2 separate regions of the Homo sapiens genome follow, and region 2 is reported to be linked to region 1. Evidence: microRNA targets listed by miRTarBase, many of them from high-throughput screens and not tested one by one. Region 1 holds a microRNA gene; the other region holds the end of a gene's coding sequence.
What was found. Region 1 holds the annotated microRNA hsa-miR-6840-3p (GCCCAGGACUUUGUGCGGGGUG, at 2,953-2,974, opposite strand). A microRNA usually pairs through its seed, bases 2 to 8, with sites in the 3' UTR of a target mRNA and lowers its output. Matches are read on the target gene's strand: a 7mer-m8 pairs with bases 2 to 8, a 7mer-A1 pairs with bases 2 to 7 and ends in A, and an 8mer does both.

Region 2: miRTarBase lists TIMM8A as a target of hsa-miR-6840-3p. The part of its 3' UTR that is shown has no 7-base or 8-base seed match.

What each region holds. Positions count from the first base shown.
Region 1 is chr7:100,352,550-100,359,669 of GRCh38, reverse strand. MIR6840 (microRNA 6840) reads right to left here and starts at 3,019; the gene lies at 2,949-3,019. It overlaps PILRB (paired immunoglobin like type 2 receptor beta), which reads right to left and starts at 1,553. Exons shown (of 4, transcript NM_178238.4): 1 at 1,304-1,553; 2 at 591-980; 3 at 133-333. The coding sequence starts at 1,367. It overlaps STAG3L5P-PVRIG2P-PILRB (STAG3L5P-PVRIG2P-PILRB readthrough), which reads right to left. Exons shown (of 17, transcript NR_036570.1): 8 at 6,756-7,106; 9 at 6,547-6,673; 10 at 6,400-6,460; 11 at 6,187-6,297; 12 at 4,430-4,527; 13 at 2,787-2,920; 14 at 1,304-1,450; 15 at 591-771; 16 at 133-333. It also overlaps the pseudogene PVRIG2P.
Region 2 is chrX:101,340,270-101,347,389 of GRCh38, reverse strand. TIMM8A (translocase of inner mitochondrial membrane 8A) reads left to right here. Exons shown (of 2, transcript NM_004085.4): 2 at 730-1,729. The coding sequence ends at 891. It also overlaps the pseudogene RPL21P132. Among named protein-coding and RNA genes, the nearest start is that of TIMM8A, 4.9 kb to the left of the region's middle.

The DNA.
Region 1 (7,120 bases):
CCAGAGTCGGCCTTGGTGGGCTTGAGGGGAGCCAGCAGGGTCTGCATATTTCTGAAGTCCCTTAGCTGCAGGTGGGCTCAGAGAAACCCCCAGCTGGGAAGCTTGAGGAGACAGTGCGTTCTGGGCACTTACCTTTCCTTCTCCTCCACCACAGGAGGAGGAGGCACAGCAGTCCCAAAATGACAGTTTTGAGCACAGCGACAGCCAATGCAACCCTGATGGCAGTGTCCAGACTTAGGTGCCATGATTCTGAGTGCCCTTTGCTTTCTGTGACCCTGAGGCCGGCTATGGTGGTTGTGCTGCTGGGCCTCCAGGTGGTGGTGGTTGTGACAGCTGGAAGAGATGAGGAATGAGCAGACCCTCTTCTGGGGGTGTGGGGCGTCTGGATGAAAGGCATGGTGTGCTGCTTTCTAGATTGGGGACATTCAGGATGAGCAAGCTGCTCTCAGAAGCCCAGACATGGAAGGGGTAGCAAGGTGAAATGCTAACAGCTCTCAATCCAGACCACTGGGTTTAAATGTGAAGACATCAGTGGTCACCAAAACCCTCACTGCGGTGGGCAAGGCAGGTGTCAGGGCAGCTGGACTCACCCTGGGTGATGGTGAGTTTGGTCCCCTTGATGGACTGCAACTGCTGCCTCCCTGATCTCCGGGTGTCCAGCTCGACTCGGCAGAAATACACAGACTGGTCCTCCTTCCGCAGGTTTGAGATCCTGAGGAAGCCGCTCTCCTGACCCTCTGTCCAGTTCAGAAAGAGCCGGTTCACATAATCCTTGTGAATGGAAGGCGGCCTTGTGCTGTAGAAGGACTGCCCGTGGAAGTGGCCCCGTCTCCAGGATATTCTCACGTTGGGAACTATGGCTAACTCCCAGGGGTAATAGAAGGAGAAGGGGATTTCCACAGAGCCACCCATGGAGGCTGAGAGGTGTTTTGGTTGAGTGACCCCATAAAGGTAGCTTGGACCAGATCCTGTGGAGCCACCTAGAGGAAGGAGGGAGTGAGTGGGGGAGAGACCTTGAAACCACCTCAGGACACAAAGAGGGTGACCCCAGACCCTCCCACACCTTCACCCACAGGCAGTCGTGTGACAGGTGGCTGGACTGACCTCTGGCCTGGGTCTCCCACTCTTCAGGCATGGGGGAGGGTGGAGGGGGAAGAGATGGCGGCACCCACCCCTATGGGACCCGCCCTTGTTTGCTGGAGGTGGGAGCCTGGCCCCTGCCCCAGATGTTCTGCCTTTGTCTTGGGTTGGCCCCTCCTGTGGTTTGGGCAGAGACCATACCTGGGCGGTCCTGGGTACTCACCAGGCTGCAGAAATGCTGGCGGCTGCAGCAGGAGCAGCAGGGGCAGCAGCAGGGGCCGACCCATGGCCTTGTTCTTCTCCAGGGGACGGGGAGACCAGCAGAGCTGTCCAGGCAGGAGAGGGGCCCTGTGGAGGGGCTGCCTGAGGGCTGAGGTGAGTGGGGAGAGCCAGGGTGAGGCTCCCCAGAGGGCTGTGGGGGCCGGGGACCTTCCCCAAACCAGTACACCTCCAGGGTGACCAGCACTTCCTTTATCCATCTGGCTTCTTATTGCAAAAGGGCCTTAGGTGCCTTTTTATCCCTTGCCTAATTGCTCCGGCCAGGACTTCAAATCCTTTTTTTTTTTTTTTTTTTAGTAGAGATGGGGTTTTGCCATGTTGGCCAGGGTGGTCTCACACTCATAGGCTCAAGTAATCTGCCCGCCTCAGCCTCCAAAAGTGCTGGGATTACAGGCGTGAGCCACTGTGCCCGGCCTGACTTCAAATCCTGTGTTGAATAGAAGTAGTGAGAGCGGGCATCCTTCTCTTGTTCCTGATCTTGGAGGCAAAGATTTCAGTCTTTCATCTAAAATGACTGAAAGACTTTCAGCCATGGGCCTTGCATGACTGGCCTTTATTTTGTTGCAGTACATTCCTTCTCTTCCTGGTTTGTGGAGTGTTTTACCAGGAAAGGGTGTTCAGGCTGGGCACAGTGGCTCAAGTCACACAAAAGTGTCAAGTCAGCCCTGCCCAAGGGCCCCAGTGCCCATCTTCCTGCTGAGGGGCTGGGCCTCACCTTGGCTGGCTGGGCCCCTCCCACCTGGATCCCTGCAGACCCCACCGCACTCAGCCTCACTTCTCATCCCTTTCTCTGTCCAAGGCCAGCGCAGGCTCTTTCAGGGAGAGGAAAGGCGGGCCTGAGTCTGTGCTCTGCTGCACCCCAGATTCAGTCCTCAGAGAGGAGAAGGAGGAAGCCAGTGGAGGTCACAGGCGCTCAGCCCCCAGCCCAAGCACCAGAGCCCCCAGCTTGTCCTCTGTCCCTCTCCCTCCCTGGCAGGGGCTCCCATGCAGTCCCCAGGCACCACCACAGCCCAGCTGGCCTCTTCCCACCCCAGGCCTGCTCCCTTGGTGCAGGGACCACAGTCTTGCTCAAGGGGTGAGGGGGCTGACGGTCCCCTACACAGAGACTGGTCCCTCTCGAGGCCACCCCTTGACCCCCAGACATGAGACTGGATCTGCAGGGTCCCCTCTGACCTCCCTGCCCTACACAGGAGGGGACAGAGCTTGGAGAAGCCCTGTCCCAGGCCACATGACTTGCAGGGCAGTCCCAGGACTGGAGCCCCCTCTACCTGGATCTCTGGGCCTCAACTTCTGAGTTGCAGGAACTCAGGCATAGGGGAGCCCCAGGAGGTTGTTCCCTCATACAGCCCCTCAGGTCATTCCCTCCACACACCTGAGCCTATGGCTGAACCAGGAAGGTTCCTTGGTGCCAGGGCAGCTGGACTCACCCTGGGTGATGGTGAGGTGGGTCCCCTTGATGGACTGCCACGACAGCCTCCCTGATCTGTATGTCCAGCTGGACTTGGCAGAAGTACACAGACTGGTCCTCCTTCCGCAGGTTCGAGATCCTGAGGAAGCCTCCCTGAGGAAGTGAAGGCTCAGAGCAACAGTGGGCACCCCGCACAAAGTCCTGGGCCCGTCTCTAACAGGGGATCTGCAGGTCTTTGCCCGGGGGTGGTCACTGGAGCTTTGGTGACCCACAGGGCTCCCTCCATAGGAGGCTCTGCCCATCCTCTCCAGAGTAAGGTGGCATCAGCTGAGGGGCCGTGGGGACAGGAAGGCAGGATTTCACCAGAGGAAGTGATAACAATCTTCTTGAGACAGAAGCAGGCAGGGACAGGCCTCCCTTCTCTTGTCAGTCTCTTCCCTGGTCCCAGTAGGCTCCTCTGTGCTTCCCAGGGCCAGTCAGGCCGATCCACCCTCCTTCCCTTCACAGGTCTGAGGAAACAGGCTCCCCATGCTCAGGAAACCCCTCCGTCTGAGCCAGGCCCTATACACCTCATTCTCCTTGTTCAACCCACAGGGAAACTGAGGCACCGGGGCTTTGGACTGAACTGGTCCCACCTGCAAAGGTGGGCCGAAAAGAGGACAAGGGACCCCCTGGCTGTTTGGGCAAGGCCTCAAGAGGGTGGCCCACCCTGCCTGAGGACTTTTTGTTTTTTTTTTTTGAGATGGATTCTCGCTGTGTTGCCCAGGCTGGAGTGCAATGGTGTGATCTTGGCTCACGGTAACCTCTGCTTCCTGGGTTCAAGTAATTCTCCTGCCTCAGCCTTCCAAGTAGCTGGGAATTACAGGTGTGTGCCACCACACCCAGCTAATTTTTATATTTTTAGTAGAGACAGGGTTTCACCATGTTGGCCAGGCTGGTCTCAAACTCCTGGCCTCAAGTGATCTGCCCACCTCAGCCTCCCAAAGTGCTGGGATTATAGGCATGGGATACAACACCCAGCCACTGAGGACTGACTCTTCGTTCCATTCCTGCCTTGCCCGTGGCCCATGGGACCCAGCTAGAAGGTCACCTGCTTACCAGGCTGCCCAAGGAGGGGGCCACATAGAACTTTTAGCCAACAGCCTCTGGGTAGCTCTGGAGGGTACATACTCCCCAGGGGCCTCAGGCCCGGTACCGCCACGTGCATTCTCCTTAGATGCAAGGTGCGTGTTTATGTCACTTTCCGGGCTCTGGACCCAGCTGAACCCCCATGGGAGATTCCTTTTGTGTCAGGATTTCTGCTCTGGAATGGTGTGAGGCCTCCCGGATGGTTCATCCTCCCTCCCCCAACAGCAGTGACAGGGCCTGGGGCTAAGCCTGGGGCTGTGGCTCTCTCTCAGAGGGGGGTTTTGGGAGGCACCGGCCCTGGAGGAGGGCATGATTCCAACATGGGCAGAGTCTAAATCCAGCCCGTTAGCCCAGCAGGTGGCCATGGGAGAGGCATGGGATGCAGTGTTCAGCAGAGGCAGGGAGGGGGCCAGGACCCTGCCCATTTTGAGAACTGCTGCTTGTATGTCCCCACCTTCCCCCAACAACTATCCTCCTTTCCTCACCAGCCACGTCTATGCCTGCCCCAGCCCCTTGCCCCTCCTTGGCACCCACCTTGTTCTTGCTTTCCCCTTGAGATCAGGAATGAGGCACAGATGTCTGCTCTCACTGCCTCCCTTCACGGTACTGGAGTCCTAGCCAGCGCGCTATGCCTGAAGGGAAATACAAGTGCTCTGTGTCTTCTTCAATTCTGTATTGATCTATTTGGCCTCCACCCATCACAGGGCCCATATTATCTATATTTCCTGCATTCTTGGCCTCTTTTTAGTGGGGGACATGGTCTCGCTCTGCCTGTAGGTGGGACTATAGGCACGCACCACAGTTCTCCCCTAATTTTCTTTTTTGCAGAGACGTGGTGTCACTGTTACCCAGGCTGGCCTCAATCTCCCAGGCTCAAGGCATCCTCTCAGTGTGCTGGGATTACACATATGAGCCACAGGGCTGAGCCCCTTGTACATTGCCAATGCTCTGGCATCTGGTGCCTCACTGACTAGGGAGAGACTCCCCCTCCCAGGGGTAGCTGACTGTAAAATTTTTACATCAACTTATTAAATCAGCTGGTCAATTTTGACCCAGAGCCATGCTGAAATTTTGATTAAGAAGCTCCTATTCAGGCGGGGCACCGTGGCTCAAGTCTGTAATCTCAGCACTTTGGGAGGCCAAGGTGGGTGGATCACCTGAGGTCAGGAGTTCGAGACCAGCCCAGCCAAACATGGTGAAACCCGTCTCTACTGAAAAAAAAAAAAAAAATACAAAAATTAGCGGACACGATGGTGCACATCCGTAGTCCCAGCTACTCGGGAGGCTGACGCAGGAGAATCACTAGAACCCGGGAGGTGGAGGTTGAAGTAAGCCAAGATCGTGCCAATGCACTCCAGCCTGGGTGACAGAGCAAGGCTCTGAAATCCAGCCAGATTTCAGGCAAGTCCTCCTACTTTCCAGCCCTGCCTGATGCCAGCTGTGGAAGGAGGGCATCAGGACTCTAGCCCAGGCCACAGCAGGGAGCCCGGCAGAGGGACGCCAGGTCAAATCACAGGGACTTTTCTCAGGCTGAAGCCCCAGGAACCCTTGCTGCTGTCCTAGGACATGGTGGGATTGCAGCAGGGACCATCCCGCTGGGATCCCCCAATTCTGTCTAGGAAGCCACAGGTGTCCCTCAGGAAGCTCCCCCAACCCCCCGCCACCCCAAGAAGCCAGGACAGATCTCTAAGACTGGGACACTGCCCTCTCCCTGGGCCAAACCCAGCCCTGCAAGGAGGCCCCAACCCACTCTGGTTCTCACCTGGCTTCTGCCTCCCAGGGGTGGAGACTTCCTCCCCAATCTCTTCACCCCCAAAGAAGCACAGCCAAGGCCCATGTCAGAGGAACTGTGTTGCTGACTTAGTCACAGCAGGAAACGACTGGAATGGGGTACTGTTGCTCACACACTCACACCTGTGCCCACACACACCCACACATGCACACACACAGACCACATCTGCAGCAGGTGGGCCTGGCCAGGCACCTGTGGGACACTTATTAGAGGCCCAAGAATAACGTAAGGGGGTGGCACCCAGGAGGCCTGGGAAGGGGAAAGCCCAGTGGCCTCATGGTCTCTCTCATTGAACTCCTAAGGGTCCCTCCATGGCCCTGGGCCCCAAGGGTCAGGGAAAAGAGTGAGGCCAGGACCAGTGCAGGGAGGCCTCTGCCCAGCCTAAGCGTAGAGTCCATTCTCAACAGAGACAAAGCTGCCATGTGCAGGGATGGATGTGGAGGCCCAGGCAGCAGGGCCCTGGGGCCAGTGTGCGGTGTGGGTGGGGAGTGATGCCCACCAGGACGGCCCCCTGTCGGGGGTGAGCTGTGTCCAAAGTAGCTGGGCAGCAGCTGGTGTTGATAGTGGCATAAGGGACGTGGAGAGCAGCCTGGGAGGCCTGGCTGGGTGCCTGCGCGGGGGAAGGAGGATCAAGTGAGTCTGTACAGCTTGGGCCCAGCCCTGGCCCCCCCTACCCCTGCCACCTCATCCCCAAAGCAGCCCCCCTCCTCACCCATGCTCGTGCTCTCAGTGCCTAGGAGCTGGTGTGGGATGGCTGGAGCCTAGGGGCAGGGCTGGGAGAGAGCAAGGATGGTCAGAGCTCTGCACGGCATGTGGCCAGCCCAGTGTCAGGGGGACGTGGACAGGGCCCAGGTCTCACCGGTGCTTCTGTCGGCACAGCAGATGAAGGAGGTAGCCACAGTCAAAGAGAAGGACTCCTGAGACCCCCAAGATCCCGGCCAGGTCTGCCCGCAGAATGGGGGCAGGAGTCGGCGGGACAGAGAGCCCTGGGCACAGAGGCAAGAATCAGATGGATGGCCAGTTCCCGAGCCCCTCCCTGCCCTCCTGGACCCCTCACCCCGGCCCCACCTGGGTCTGAGCTGGGCGGGAGGCTCCCACAGGCCTCCCAGGAGCCCTCAGGGAAGGACGCAAACTTGCAGCAGAAGGTGGTGTTGGCGCAGGGGCTGCTGGCCCCAGAGCCTTCCAGGATGAGAGAGATGCTGCTCTGGGTTTCCCAGCGGGCCTGGCGAGCAGGGGCCCATTGCTGGATGCCAAGTTCCGGGTGCAACACAGCCAGCGTGGTCCCCCCAGCACCATCGGGGCCCCCCCTGCTCACAGTCACCAGGGAGATGGAGCCAGACTCCAGGAACCCACAACGGATGGTGAAGGACGAGAGCTCGGTGGCCTCCATCCGAACTTGTACTCACACCTCCGGGGTCCCTGTGGAACAGCAG
Region 2 (7,120 bases), not on the chromosome of region 1:
ACTCAGGAAGCTGAGGCACGAGAATGGCTTGAACCTGGCGGAGGTTACAGTGAGATCATGCCACTGCACTCCAGCCTGGGTGACAGAGCCAGACTCTGTCTCAAAAAAAAAAAAGAAAAGAAAAGAAAGGAAAAAAAACTGTAAGCTATGATGAACCCCTTAGGAAAATGCATTCAATTTTCCATTCATCATGACAGGATTCAAGAATCTCTAGCTTAAGTAGACAAGGTTATAGAATCTCAAGTCATATTTTTTTTCTTCTTTGGTAGGTTTTAGGGTACCTTGCTGAAATGATTTATCCTTTCACCCTTTTATTCTGTAGTTAACTTAAAGGCATTTAGTTCAAACAGCATTGTGGAGTTAAAACCAAATTCATTGAAAGGTTACTTCACTTATATTTTGCCATTTTCTTGCTCTGGAATATCCCAGCTCTGCCATTTTCTGGCCCTATGATTTTGGGTAAAGTATCTCTGTGCCACAGTTTTCCTCTTTGTAAAATGAGGATTTATAATAGTATCTATTCCATAGTATTGTTGTAAGAATTTAATGTAAGGCTAGAGAACATTGCTATATACTTGGTCAGCTGCCAAATGTGAACTATCAGTAACATATCAGATATTATTTTTAGGTAAAGTTTTTTTTTCTCTAAGCAACAAAAAGGGACCCCTGCCCCCAACCGTCTTTTTCTTTCCAAGTTCCCTTTGTGATTCTGTATCTTGTCCTGAGCAGGAGAAGTGCATGGACAAGCCTGGGCCAAAGTTGGACAGTCGGGCTGAGGCCTGTTTTGTGAACTGCGTTGAGCGCTTCATTGATACAAGCCAGTTCATCTTGAATCGACTGGAACAGACCCAGAAATCCAAGCCAGTTTTCTCAGAAAGCCTTTCTGACTGATCTCAGCATTACCTCTTTGGAAAAGGAAGGTAGTTCAAGAAATGAAGAGCTGTTGATGGGATGATTGAAGAAACAGCTATGAGAGGATTGGCTCCCATCTTTTGTTACTCTTGGGACATCCTGTCATCTGAGAATGAACAAAGACCAATTTTTTGTGTGTGAAGCTTAAGGGTCATATGTTTGCTTGTATTTTTTAATGCTAATCTTGTGAAAATAATTGACAGGCGAAAGAAAACTCTATTTAGATGCATATTACTGTACATGGGACTATGCTTTTCTCAAAGCCCCATTAACTGCTTCCTATAATTTTGATAGTGGGACCACATACGTAAAAATCTCTCATTTGTGTGGAGTCATTTCTGATTTCAGGGGAGATCCTTGTGTTTATCAGAAAGGGCAGAAGTAGGGGAAGAATAATTTGGTATCCTTATCTAGTGTTTGATTGTCAATGCTGGAGAAAAATATCTGTAAGAGTGTTTATACAGTACACTTCAGTTATCTTGATCTCCCTTTCCTATATGATGATTTGCTTAAATATCCATATTAAGTAAGTCTCAAGGTAGGGTAGGCAGCCTGAGAGTCTAGAGGCCTTTAGTTATAAAGGAATCTAGCCAGTGAACATAATTCTTATTACTAGACTGCCACAAGGAAGAAATTAACTTACCCTGTATATCAGGGTACAAAAAATTCAGTGATGTGCCTAAATAAGTTATAAAGATTTAGGCCAATCAGAAGCTAACAGCAGTTTCAGGTAGAGGTGCATGCCTAATGTTAGTTAGTGTAGATTCCATTTACTGCATTCTTCTGATCACTGAAATAAAAGCTATATAAGATTCAACTCTGTGATTGAGAAGGCATCCTATTGCAGTTATTATCTGCAACCCGGAGAGATTTAGCATGGGCTGATTCCAAGGTTAAAATGTAGTCAGTCAGTCTGGGTACCTGCTCTGTGTAAGGTACAGCACAGTATTCCAGGGGTTCCTGACCTTTTTGAGAGAAAAGAGAACCTAGAGATGAGATGGGGAGGGAAGCGGTTATGTGCTGGCAGTCAAGTCCGTGAGTATAGTAGAGGTTGTATTGACTGGATTCTCCTCTTATTTCAAATCCTTGTAGACTGGAGTATAGACCTAAAATGGACCTACTTGTTGGGAGCCTCTAGTGCAAATCCATGAAATCTGGGGAAATGAACATCTCTAAAAGCTTCAAGTCCCTGTTTAGATTTTCCCCATAAAGGTGCTAGAAGGACTTTTTTTTTTTTTTTTTTTGAGACGGAGTCTTGCTCTGTCGCCCAGGCTGGAGTGCAGCGGTGGGATCTCGGCTCACTGCAACCTCCACCTCCCGGGTTCAAGTGATTCTCCTGCCTCAGCCTCCTGAGTAGCTGGGATTACAGGCGCACGCCACCATGCCTGGCTAATTTTTGTACTTTTAGTAGAGACGGGGTTTCACCATGTTGGTCAGGCTGGTCTCAAACTCCTGACCTCATGATCTGCCCACCTTGGCCTCCCAAAGTGCTGGGATTACAGGCGTGAGCCACCGCACCCAGCTGGAATTTTTTTTAAATCATTATGAAAACACAGTTAAACATTTAAGTTCATACTCTGTGCCGTTGTTTTTAGTGACAGGATTTCAGCAGTGCACAGAAACAGTCCCTGCCCTTGAGGAGCTATTGGTCTAGTTAGGGGAGGTAGACAATAAACACATAAATATGTCAATGTAATAAGTGCCATGGAGAAACAGCAGAGTAAGGGTGTTAGGGAATATTTATGGAGTGTGATTATTTTATATAAGATGGTTTGAGAAGGCCTCCTTGGGAAGGTGGCAGTCCAACAGAGACCTGGATGAACTAAGCAACCAAACCTTGTGGGTGTTGCCGAGCACGGTGGCTCACGCCTGTAATCCCAGCACTTTGGGAGGCCGAGGCAGGCAGACCACGAGGTCAGAAGATCAAGACCATCCTGGCTAACATGGTGAAACCCCATCTCTGCTAAGAATACAAAAAAAAAAAGAGCTGGGCGTGGTGGCAGGCGCCTATAGTCCCAGCCACTTGGGAGGCTGAGGCAGGAGAATGGTGTGAAACCGGGAGGCAGAGCTTGCAGTGAGCCGAGATTGTGCCACTGCACTCTAGCCTGGGTGACAGAGCAAGACTCCGTCTCAAAACAAACAAACAAACAAAAAAACCCCACAAAACCTTGTGGGTGTCTGAGACAAGAACATTTCAGGCAGGAATAACAGTAAGTCCGAAGGCCCCAAGGTAGGAACTGCATGCATGATGCCGTGGAGAACAGTCAAGAGGTCATTATAGCTGGAGTAAAGTGAGTGAAAGAGAATGGTAAGAAATAAGGTTGGAGAGACCGGGTGCGGTGGGCTCATGCCTGTAATCCCAGCACTTTGGGAGGCCGAGATGGATGGATCACCTGAGGTCAGGAGTTCAAGACCAGCCTGGCCAACATGGTGAAACCCTGTCTCTGCAAAAAATACAAAAATTAGCCAGGTGTGGTGGCAGGTGCCTGTAATCCCAGCTACTTGGGAAGCTGAGGCAGGAGAACCACTTGAACCCAGGAGGCAGAGATTGCAGTGAGCCGCTCCAGCCTGGGTGAGAGAGTGAGACTCCATCTCAAAAAAAAAAAAAAAAGAAATAAGGTTGGAGAAAAACGCATGCAATGGATCAGGGTGACGGGTGTGTGTGCACTGATTATGTGGGGCCTTGTAGGCCATGGCAAGGACTTTGGGCTTTTACTAAGCAAGGTGGGGAGCCATTTGAGGGATTTTAACAGATGAATGATGTAACATAACTTAATTTTAGGAGGGTCTGGCTGCTCTTTGGGCAACATCACATGGTGAAGAAGTTGTAACAGTAGCAGTAGTAGTAAGAATAATGGCATTTTGAAATCCAGGAAAATGAGACTTTAAAATGCATATACCTTGTAACTATATGTCCCCGTTGACTTTTTTTTCCCTACAAAATTTAATGTGAGGCCAGGCACGGTGGCTCACATCTATAATCTCAGTACTTTGGGAGGCTGAAGTGGGAGGATTGCTTGAGCCCAGGAGTTTGAGACCAGCCTAGGCAACATGCCAAGACCCCATCTCTACAAAAAATACAAAAATTAGCTGAGCATGGTGGCACATACCTGTAGTCCCAGATACATGGGAGGCTGAGGCGAGAGGATCACCTGAGCCTGTGGAGGTCGAGGCTGCAGTGACCCATGATCACGCTACTGCACTCCAGCCTGGGTGACAGTGAGACCTTGCCTCAAAAATAAAAAGAAAATGTGTTCTTAAAACCTCAAGTCATAGGAACGGTTCTTTAGTCTTTTCCTTATTATTATATTTATTATGTTATTTATTACTATATTATTTAGTTTTTTTTTTTTTGAGACAGAGTCCCACTCTGTCTCCAAGCCAGCGGCACGATCTCGGCTCACTGCAATCTCTGCCTCCTGGGTTCAAGCGATTCTTCTGCCTTAGCCTCCCGAGTAGCTGGGATTACAGGCACACACCACCACACCCAGCTAATTTTTATATTTTTAGTAGAGACGGGGTTTCACCATGTTGGCCAGGATGGTCTTGATCTCCTGACCTCGTGATCCACCTGCCTCGGCCTCCCAAAGTGCTGGGATTATAGGCGTGAGCCACTGCGCCCCACCTTATTTAGTATTAAAGTGTTCTCATTACTTGTACACACAAATTTAAATGTCTTAGCTTTACAGTATTGCTTGCTCAGCGAATATATGTCATGAGAAAGGTCTGTCAGATTCATACAGTAAACTTGAGCACCAATTATGTGTTTTGACACTACTGGGCACAAAGACAATGGAAAAGAAAAGGTGTAACAAATCCCCTGTCTGAGATTAATAAGCCCCAAGGCAACAATTTGGGCTTTTGTTTGTTTTGTCAATCTGAGAAATGCAGTTTCAGAACTTTGATAGGTGGTACTGTTAGCCCTGATGACATTCAAAGTCCTCATTTCAAATATTCAAGGTAGAAAATTCAAAACTCAGTTGTAAAACAAAAGAATTGGATTAGCAGACCCTTTTCATGAAATGAAATCTTACTTAGAAGCCTGTTATGTAAAGCAGAAAAGCCAAGCTACTCTGGTGGTTAGTATCTGGAAGCCTTCCTACTGTTGTGTTGTCACCCACCTGCACTGCCAGTGATGCCTAAGGCTCATCTTCAAGCTTCCAGGTTTTACCAAGCACACTCTGAAAGTGAGTCTATGTATTAGGGATAACAGAAGGAAATCAAGCAAAAACTTGCTCTTTATTTACAATAAACTCCATAAGGAATTTGAATTCTAAAGTTAACAAATCAATGAACTCCATGTAAAATAGTCTTTACATGGAATAATGGAAAACAATCGATGGTCCTTTTCTTAAAAACCAATTTTTCCCCATTGTAATACCTTTTTTTTTTTTTAAGATGAGATCTCGCTCTGTTTCCAAGGCTGGAGTGCAGTCATTTCCATGTAGTATGTACTTTTCCCGAGTACTGCCATGACTCACTTGCCATTTTCAAGGAATAGCAGCCCACTGACTCAACACCCTCACAGACACACCCAGGATCAATACTTTGTATCCTTCAATCCAATCAGGTTGACACTCATTATTAACCATCACAAACTTCTTTATAAATTGTTATGGAATGAGCTCCAATACATATTGTTAAAGTTAAAAAGCAAGATTAAAGACTACCATTTGTGTAAAAAGGGGGGGGGATTAAAATATATGTATGCATATTTGCTTGAATAAGCATTAATTAACTCTTGAAGGATATTGTTAATATTGATTGCCTCTGGGGAAAAGAACTGGGTGGTTGGGGAGTAGGGGTGGGAGACTTTTTGCCATTTATCTTTTCTTTATGCCTTTTGAGTTTTGAATCATGTGAATGAATTACCTATTCAGAAAAATACATATTATTTTAAAAAATAACAAAATTTCTCTCCATTTCAGCACTATAAACTCTGTACTAAAAAGTGGGGATGTGTGATAGAAACCACTTTTAGGAATAAAAAACTTATATTTCAACTACAGTACTTTCAGATATCCCCTAGTCTCAAATAGATTCTTTTTTCTTTTTTTAACTTTTGTAAATTATTTTATTTCTTCCATGATGATTTAAATGGACTTTTTTTCTTTTTTTTTTTTTGAGACGGAGTTTTGCTCTTGTTGCCCAGGCTGGAGTGCAATGGCGTGATCTTGGCTCACTGCAACCTCTGTCTCCCGGGTTCATGCGATTCTCCTGCCTCAGCCTCCCGAGTAACTGGGATTACAGGCATGAGCCACCATGCCTGGCCTGACTATCTTCAAACAAGTACAAATATTTCATAAATAATATCTGGCCATTTCTAGCCAATTGAGTAATTTGTTGCACAATAAGCCACCTCACATCTTTCAGCAAGAAATACATTAAATTTGAATAATAAAGACATTACACAATGAATTAGGACACTTTTAAAATTTGTTTTAATTTTTATTAGGGGGAGGGGACAGCACACTTCTACTTAATGAAGAGAAACATTTTTACAGTCCAGAGGTCTTTTATGTTTTTGCACCTATTATGCTTGAATTCATAGGGGATAGGTTCCAGCAGCCCAGACTCCTTTCCATTGGTTCTCACAAAGTACACTTCTCTGGGTGGAGCAGCCTGGCACTTGAGTTGAACCCAGGTACCTCTCTTTTTGGCTTCCTTTTTCTGATCATTTTCCCTCATGCGTTTCAGGAAGCTATCTTGGCTCTTAGAGTGCTTAATGTACTCAATCCGCACATTAATTCTCTTGGCAAGAATCTTGCCCTTAGCTTCTTTGTTTACAACAATGCCAACAGCATGCTGGTTAACAGTGTAGACACAGTTTTGCCATGGTAACACTTATGGGACATTCCTTTTTGAATAGTACACATTCCCTCGATGTCTCTATATGTGTGTGTATATATATATTTTTTCTCTATATATAGAATATATATATAAATAGATATAGAAATATATATAGTCCATAATGAACACATATTTTTCTCTCTATATATATAGAAAAGATATATATATATATATATATATTTTTTTTTTTTGAGACAGAGTCTCACTCTGTTGTCCAGGCTGGAGTGCAGTAGTGAGATCTCGGCTCACTGCAAATTCCACCTCCCAGGTTCCAGTGATTCTCCTGCCTCAGCCTCCTGAGTAGCTGGGACTACAGGCACGCACCACCACGCCCGGCTAATAATATCGTCTTTCTTAT